Homo sapiens: one gene and its partner. The protein of the gene in region 1 interacts with the protein of each later gene in a pairwise test. Each region holds a gene or a part of one and is shown in the gene's direction. Other genes may lie near its edges.

Region 1 (3,778 bases):
AAGTGCCAAGCACATACATACTTGGAAGCTCACCCTAGTGTTGTTGCCAGTAAGAAAACAGGCATGATGCATGCTGTGATAAGGGAAGTAGAGGGTGTGCTATAGGCCAGAGGGAGGTGCAGCAAAGGGAAGGCTGCTCAGGGAATTTGATTCTGAGCTGTGACCTGAGGATGGGGCAAGGGAGTCCTATCAAGGGCTGGAGGAGTTCCAACAAAGAGAACTGCACAGGACCAAAGACGCAGAGGAAGCTGGTCTGCCTGAAGCCTGAAGTGCGTGGAGGAAAGGCCGACTGTAAGGGCCACACAATGAGGATTTTTTGTTAAAGGATTTAGATTTATCCTGAGGGTAGTGGGGAAGTTAATGAAGGGTGTAAACAGGTGTGGTACGATTGTTTCTGTGAAGAGTGAGCCCTTTGGAGAATGATTTGAGGGGAGTGGTTCAGGTACAGATGGTAGCCACCTGGAGTTGGATAGGGTTGGAGAGAGGTGGTTGGAATCTGGATCAGGACCTACCGAGTAATAGAGAAGGGTTAGCATGGGTCCTGGTTGATATTCAGGTTTTCAGTAGATGGTGGGGCTATAACAGAGAGGAAATGTGAAAGGAAGTGCAGATCTATTAGGGGCAAGGAGGAGCGTGTGGTGAGTTCAGTTTTAGAAATACTGAGTTTGAGGTGCCAGTTGGAGGTTTTGAATAGACAGATGGATCTGCTGATCTGGAGTTCAGGCATGAGATCCAGGTTAGAGGGAAGATATTGGGAAGTATCAGCCTAAGTGAGTTCATTAAAGCCAGAAGATGGTATGAGGCTCTCCAGGGGAGAAAAAGAGGACATCGCAGACCCCTCATGGTAGATTAGAGGAGGGGAAAGTGTTGGAAGGAAACTGAGATGAAACTGCCGAAGAAGAAGAAAGAAAACCAGAACAGCAGGCCTCAGTAACCAGTCCCTGCTTACTTGCATTTATTCTTTTTTAGGGATGAGGTCTCACTCCATCACCCAGGCTGGAGTACAGTGGCACCGTCATAGCTCAATGCATCCTCAAACACCTAGGCTCAAGTGATCCTTTTGCCTTAGCCTGCCAAGAGCTGGGACTACAGGTACACTCCACCACACCCAGCTAATTTTTTTTTTAACTTGTGTTTTTGAGATGGAGTCTTGCTATGTCGCCCAGGCTGGTCTGGGAGTTGTTTCCTCTAGTTATCTTCCTGCCTCAACTTTGTGAGTAGGTGGGATTACAGGCGTGTGCCACCTTGCCTGGCTTAGTGGCTTATATTCTATTTATTTATTTATTTATTTACTTTGGTTGCTTCGACTTTTTTTTTTTTTTTCCTATTATGGTTTCTTCTTCCTGTAATTTTCTTCCTCGTGCACCAGGTCTGTCTATAACGCCTAGAGAGTCAGCTTCTTGAGGAACTGTGGTTTATTTATTTTTATACCAGGTGTGGAATGTGTTCAGTAAATACAGGGAGAACTGAACCCACAGGCATTGCCTTCCTTCTGTTAATAAGTCCAGAGAAATTGCCATCCCTTGTTAGAAGTTATCAGTCTCAGGGAACAAGTAACTTTATATAGCTGTGGGTATATTTTGAGCCTGATTTTTAACAGAAGAGGAAACAGGCATGGTCCCTAGAAAATGTTTTGCCTGTGGAGAGTCTGTCCCACAATTTCCAACATAAATGTAACAGTCATGGGTAGAAAGTTTGTATAGCAAACTTTTTCTTTGAAAGCCCCAGAAGCTCTGCTCTGTAGCATATAAACAGATGGCTCAGGCATCAGGCCTAATCTTAACAAATGACTGTTCAGAAATAATCTGAGTGGGGTCACACCTGTTTCTAGTTTGTACATATAGTCTCTGTGTGATTCATACCAAGAAATATCAGTATGTTGGTTTCTTGCACTGTTCTCCCACCAAGCAAATCTGGAATTATCGCATATAGATTTGGGTGGAAAACTTTGCTACTGTCCAAATATAAATGGAGGGAAAAGTCCCTCTTGCTTAATTGAATACCATTTCACTTCTATAATGACAATTTTTTTTTTTTTTTTTTTTGAGATGGAGTTTCACTCTTTTGCCCAGGCTGGAGTACAATGGCGCGATCTCGGTTCACTGCAACCTCTGCCTCCCGGGTCCAAGCGATTCTCCTGCCTTAGCCTCCCCAGTAGCTGGGATTACAGGTGCCTACCACCATGCCCGGCTAATTTTTGTATTTTTGTATTTTTTTTTTTTTTAAGTAGAGATGGGGTTTTATCATGTTGGCCAGGCTGGTCTTGAACTCCTGACCTCAGGTGATCTGTCCACCTTGGCCTCCCAAAGTGCTGGGATTACAGGAGTGAGCCAACGTGCCCGGGCCTATAATGACAGTTACAAGGGCCGCACAATAGTATAACACTATACCCAGGGGTTTCAGCTATATCAGTAGTGTTTCTTACACTGGGTATATGGGTATTTTTTTTGTTTGTATTTTTAGCTGTCATATTTTTACAAGTGTCTAAGATATTTTGTATTAAATTAAAAGCAACGTGGTTAATATACATGTATCCAATGTAGTTAACTTAGGTTGCTAACTTTCTTTTAAATTCACCATATTTGAACTACAGAAAGTAACTTCTTTTTTTTTTTTTTTTTTTTTATTTGAGACAGAGTCTCGCTCTATCGCCCAGGCTGGAGTGCAGTGGCGCGATCTCGGCTCACTGCAACCTCCGTCTCCCAGGTTCATGCCATTCTCCTGTCTCAGTCTCCCAGGTTCATGCCATTCTTCTGTCTCAGCCTCCCAAGTAACTGGGACTATAGGCGCATGCCACCACGCCCGGCTAATTTTGTATTTTTAGTAGAGATGGGGTTTCACCGTGTTAGCCAGGATGGTCTCGATCTCCTGACCTCATGATCCGTCTGCCTCGGTCTCCCAAAGTGCTGGGATTACAGGCGTGAGCCAAAGTAACTTTTAAAAATGGGAAAATGAATTATTCCCTTAGGAAAATATTGCTGTTCGTTATAGCAGTAGTTTCTCAAAGCTGTTGAAATTCCCTGCCTATCATTCTTCTGAGTTTCAAAACATTTTTTCAAGAGAGGCTGTGAGTCCTTGTGGAATTTAAGGGGAGCTAGAAAATTTTCTCCAATTTTAAAAGCATATGCTGTAGAGGCTTGAAGGAGGTGGTGACACAAGTGGCCACCTGGGCATGGGCACTGCCTGGGGCATCACCTTGACGGAATCAGCACAATCCAGAGTGCAAGAGTCAGGCTCAAAAATCTCATGTCATGGGAAGACCTGATTTAATCTAGCTCGCTAAAAATGATGTGTAAAACCAGGACCCAAGTTTAGTAATTTATAAGCAGTAAGGAACTGCCAAGGGTCCCAGGTATGTGTGCCCTCTGCCTAGGCCAAGATTTTCCTATAGTTAGGGCACATGGGAACCAGAACAAACCAGAAGTTTCTTGGTGAACATGGAATCAGAAGAATGTTACCTTGAAAAAGTAGATATTTTCATAAGTCGGCCAGGCGCGGTGGCTCACGCGTGTAATCCCAGCACTTTGGGAGGCCGAGGTGGGCAGATCACCTGAGGTCAGGAGTTCAAGACCAGCCTGGCCTGGCCAACATGGTGAAACCCCATCTCTACTAAAAATACAAAAAAATTACCCATGCGTGATGGTGTATGCCTGTAGTCCCAACTACTTGGGAGGCTGAGACAGGAGAATCACTTGAATCCGAGAGACAGAGGTTGCAATGAGCCGAGACTGCGCCACTGTACTCCAGCCTGGGCGACAGAGTGAGACTCTGTCTCAAA
Region 2 (3,778 bases), on another chromosome or scaffold:
CAGTGTATTAAATCTCTCCCTCATATGTCTGTTTCCTATACTAGATTTTCTTGATGTGGTTCATACTTATCATGAATTTAGAATTTTATAATTAATGTAATTAGCATAAATGACTGTGGAAGCTGTCAGCCAGACCCAAGCCTGTAAAAAATGATGAGTTTAACATAGATTGAGGTTTTTATTTTATTTACAAAATTTTTGAACTGTTTTAAACCCTTATTTAAAAATGCAGGCAGTCACTATCATACTGGTAAATTATACAATATTTAGTCTCTTTGTGTTTTGAATCATTAATGTATTTTTTTTCCCAAATAGAAAGAACTCTGCAACATGATACTTGATTGCTGTGCCCAACAGAGGACATACGAAAAATTTTTTGGCTTATTAGCTGGGGTGAGTTCCAGCCTCTACTGAGGGAATTCTTAAAACGAATATTGTAAATTAATGATTTCTGCTTTATGGTCTGGTCTCATTTAAAAACATATTACCACTTTTGCTAAAAGCAAATTATTCTCTCCTTCCTCAGGTTTCCCACTCTCTTCACCTTCCTCTTTTTCTACTTCATTTTTGCAGTGCTTTAACTTTGCATATCACTTTTCCAGAGCTTTTTGGAATTTTCCATGATTTGTAATGATTTCCCAATAGACGACAAGTAAATGCTGTCTTTTCAAAATCTCAAAGCAGTGTCTAAAGTCAAGTACATGTTCAGGCAGCACAATTAAAGCATGATCTAAAATATTTCTTTAAGCTCTACCCTCATGTGATCACCTACATGTATGATTTTGTTTTAACATGTAAATCTCAGGTAATTAGAAACCATATATATTAACTTCTTTTTTGAGCATCATATGGCACAAAAGGATTTAGTGATATATGCTCTTTGAAAATATAAAGCATATTAATAAAGTTTTGATTCAGTAAATTTAGGATTTAATATGCTCATAATTGTATTAACATTCAATTTTTAATGGTACTGATTTTTTATTTATTAGCGATTTTGCATGCTAAAGAAAGAGTACATGGAATCCTTTGAAGGTATATTCAAAGAACAGTATGATACCATCCATCGCTTGGAAACAAACAAGTTGCGAAATGTTGCTAAGATGTTTGCTCACCTTTTATACACTGATTCACTTCCATGGAGTGTAAGTACATGGGTCAATATTTATACTTCCTTCCTAATTCCCTGTTCTCAAATAGATTTTCGTATAAGCTAGCCATATTTATCCTATTATGAAATGTGCTTTAAAATGAAATGTGTAGAACTGCTGTCTTTGAGATTATCATCATGTTATAAGGAATCAGAAAGCTAGGTAAATAATATACAAGAAATACTATCTTTGTATTATATTAACAGTCCAAACATGCCAGTGTTTCGATAGTGATGGCTAGGAGTGTCTTCAGGAAAAGTACTGCAGATTTTCATCTTCTCTGTGTACACACACGTGCATGCACACTCACATCCACATATGCCACTATTTTGGTGGTAAATGTGTCTCTGAATTACTCTCCCTTGATTCCTGAGGGAATAACTCTCCATGGTTCTCTTGTTGGGTTTGAGAAAAAATGATTGTTCTAGAAGGATGTGTTCTTTTTAGCAGACATTGAAGTTGGGTAAGCTATAGAGAGGATATCCTATAGTCATAGAACAAAGAAAGATATATTCTTGATAGGGAAATGTGCACTGGATTGAAATTTGAAAGGCGTTCATTAAGCTGGCATTGATTTTACAGCTGTTTTTCAACCAGTGTTAGTTAGCCACCACTTATATACTGAGTCATTGAGAGAGGTGCTGTGTATTCAGAGTGAATTATACATGGCCCCTCCTTTCAAGAGGGTTACAGTATAAGACCAGAGGTAAGATATGCCCATAGCAATGATACAAAATAAAAAGTCTTAGATTCTAAGAAAAGCAAAATTACTAAAGGAATTTGAAAGAAAGAAAGAGAGAAGGATGAGAAATTACATCCAGGAGGAAAGAACAGGATTATCTTGTAGAATGCCATCCTACTAATGGTAGAATGAGGCAATATCTCAAACTTAAAAACATTGGTTAGATTTTTATAGTACTTTAAGTACCAAGTATGTCCAGCTACATTAATAGGCATTCGTAATCTAACCTAGGAGACTAATTGTAATAATTTTTGACTTCTTTTTTCCCCTCTTTGAGAAAATGAAGTGAGAATTTTAAACAATTAACCAACTAATGGGCCCCCCAAACACATAACCCATAAAAACTAGAGGTTACTTTTATTTTTATTTTCCCTAAAAATATTTCTTTAGGCATTTCAGTTTTTAAGCCACAGTCTTAATATTCAGAATAAACCATTATACTTTCTGTCTTTTTTTAAATCGTATGTTATGTGTGCTAAACAAAATTGTAGCCTAATGTGCTAAGTGGCATTTTGCCCCAAACCTTCATATACACCACATTTTGATGAGTAAGGTTTAGGAGCTAGTAATCTTTACCATTATATGCTCAAGAGAGGATATCTTCCCTGCTATAAAAAGCACATTACTCAAAACAGAGAATGAAATCTATTTCTGTCGCATCTTAACATTTTGAAAGTTAGTATAGAGAAGTAGTTTTAAACTTTATGTCAGCATAAGGGGAGATATTCAGAGATAACTCTGGTTGAAGATGGGAATAAATAGTAATTTTGAGAAACACTTAAACCTACAAATATTGGTCACTATGTCCTGTCTTTTATAAATTAAAATATACTTGTCTTTTTTTATTTTAATTTTCAGGTTCTTGAATGTATAAAACTGAGTGAAGAAACCACTACATCATCCAGTAGAATTTTTGTCAAAATATTTTTCCAGGAACTGTGTGAATACATGGGTCTTCCTAAACTTAATGCAAGATTAAAGGATGAGTAAGTTTGCCATTAAGCACTTTTTATTCTTATTGACCTCTGGTTTTCTCCCATTGTAGCAGACATAAGCCCATCCGAGACTGTAAAAACAAGAGCTAAGCCCCCTGAGACTTTCTTCATCCATTAATCACTGTGAATTTCATGTTATGTCACACAGGACAACATGCAACTTTTAGTGGTGGTTTTTAGTTTAAGTGGAGTTCAAATTAATGCCTTTTTAGATTTTCTTAGAAAATACAGAATTGTTTTTGTATGCTCACTTGAATTCTCCAGTGATATTTATAATTTTATTTTCTTTTTACCCTAATTTTAAGCCTTAGAATGATAACTAATATTATCAGTGGACAGTTTTGAGTATATATTTCATCTATTAATAATTGTTCAAAATATTACATAGAACTAGAGCCTTATTTCAGGATTATTATGTAATCCCCTCTCACCTTTCTTATTTCCTGTTTGTTCAGATTGCCACTTAGGTTGACTTCTACTCCATTGACACTACTGAAATCATCCTTTCAGATTTCTCAGTGACCACCTGCCATATTCAGTTGTCTTTCTCAGGCTGCATGCCTCTTCACTTCTCTGCCTCACTTATGCAGTTGACTACCTACTCACTGTGGCTCCATACTTTCTTCTCACTTCCTCTCTCAGTCTTCTCCTCAGCCTGCCTCTTCAGTGTTCCTGGGTTCCACACACTGTCTCTGGACTATTCCATCCACTTCTCTTGGCTTCATATACTTACTTATTTGGTCCCTGTCTACTTGACCAGGCTCGTCTTCTCTCTCTTCAGCAAGCTGCACTCCAGCCATACCAACACTGCCAAGCTTGTTAAACATATCTGGCTCTTTCATGCTTCCTTACCTCAGTTTCCACTGCTGGCATTCTCCTGTCTTATTGAT

What was found. The genes of interacting proteins can lie anywhere in the genome.
Region 2: the proteins of PTPN21 (region 1) and CWC22 interact in binary tests that used the Homo sapiens proteins (3 or more experiments, as listed by UniProt).

Annotation. Positions count from the first base shown.
Region 1 is NC_000014.9:88,544,843-88,548,620, reverse strand, and holds part of PTPN21 (tyrosine-protein phosphatase non-receptor type 21), read left to right. Parts: intron 1-3,778.
Region 2 is NC_000002.12:179,951,572-179,955,349, reverse strand, and holds part of CWC22 (pre-mRNA-splicing factor CWC22 homolog), read left to right. Parts: intron 1-315; coding exon 316-393; intron 394-992; coding exon 993-1,145; intron 1,146-2,751; coding exon 2,752-2,879; intron 2,880-3,778. UniProt on the Homo sapiens protein: Required for pre-mRNA splicing as component of the spliceosome. As a component of the minor spliceosome, involved in the splicing of U12-type introns in pre-mRNAs. Promotes exon-junction complex (EJC) assembly.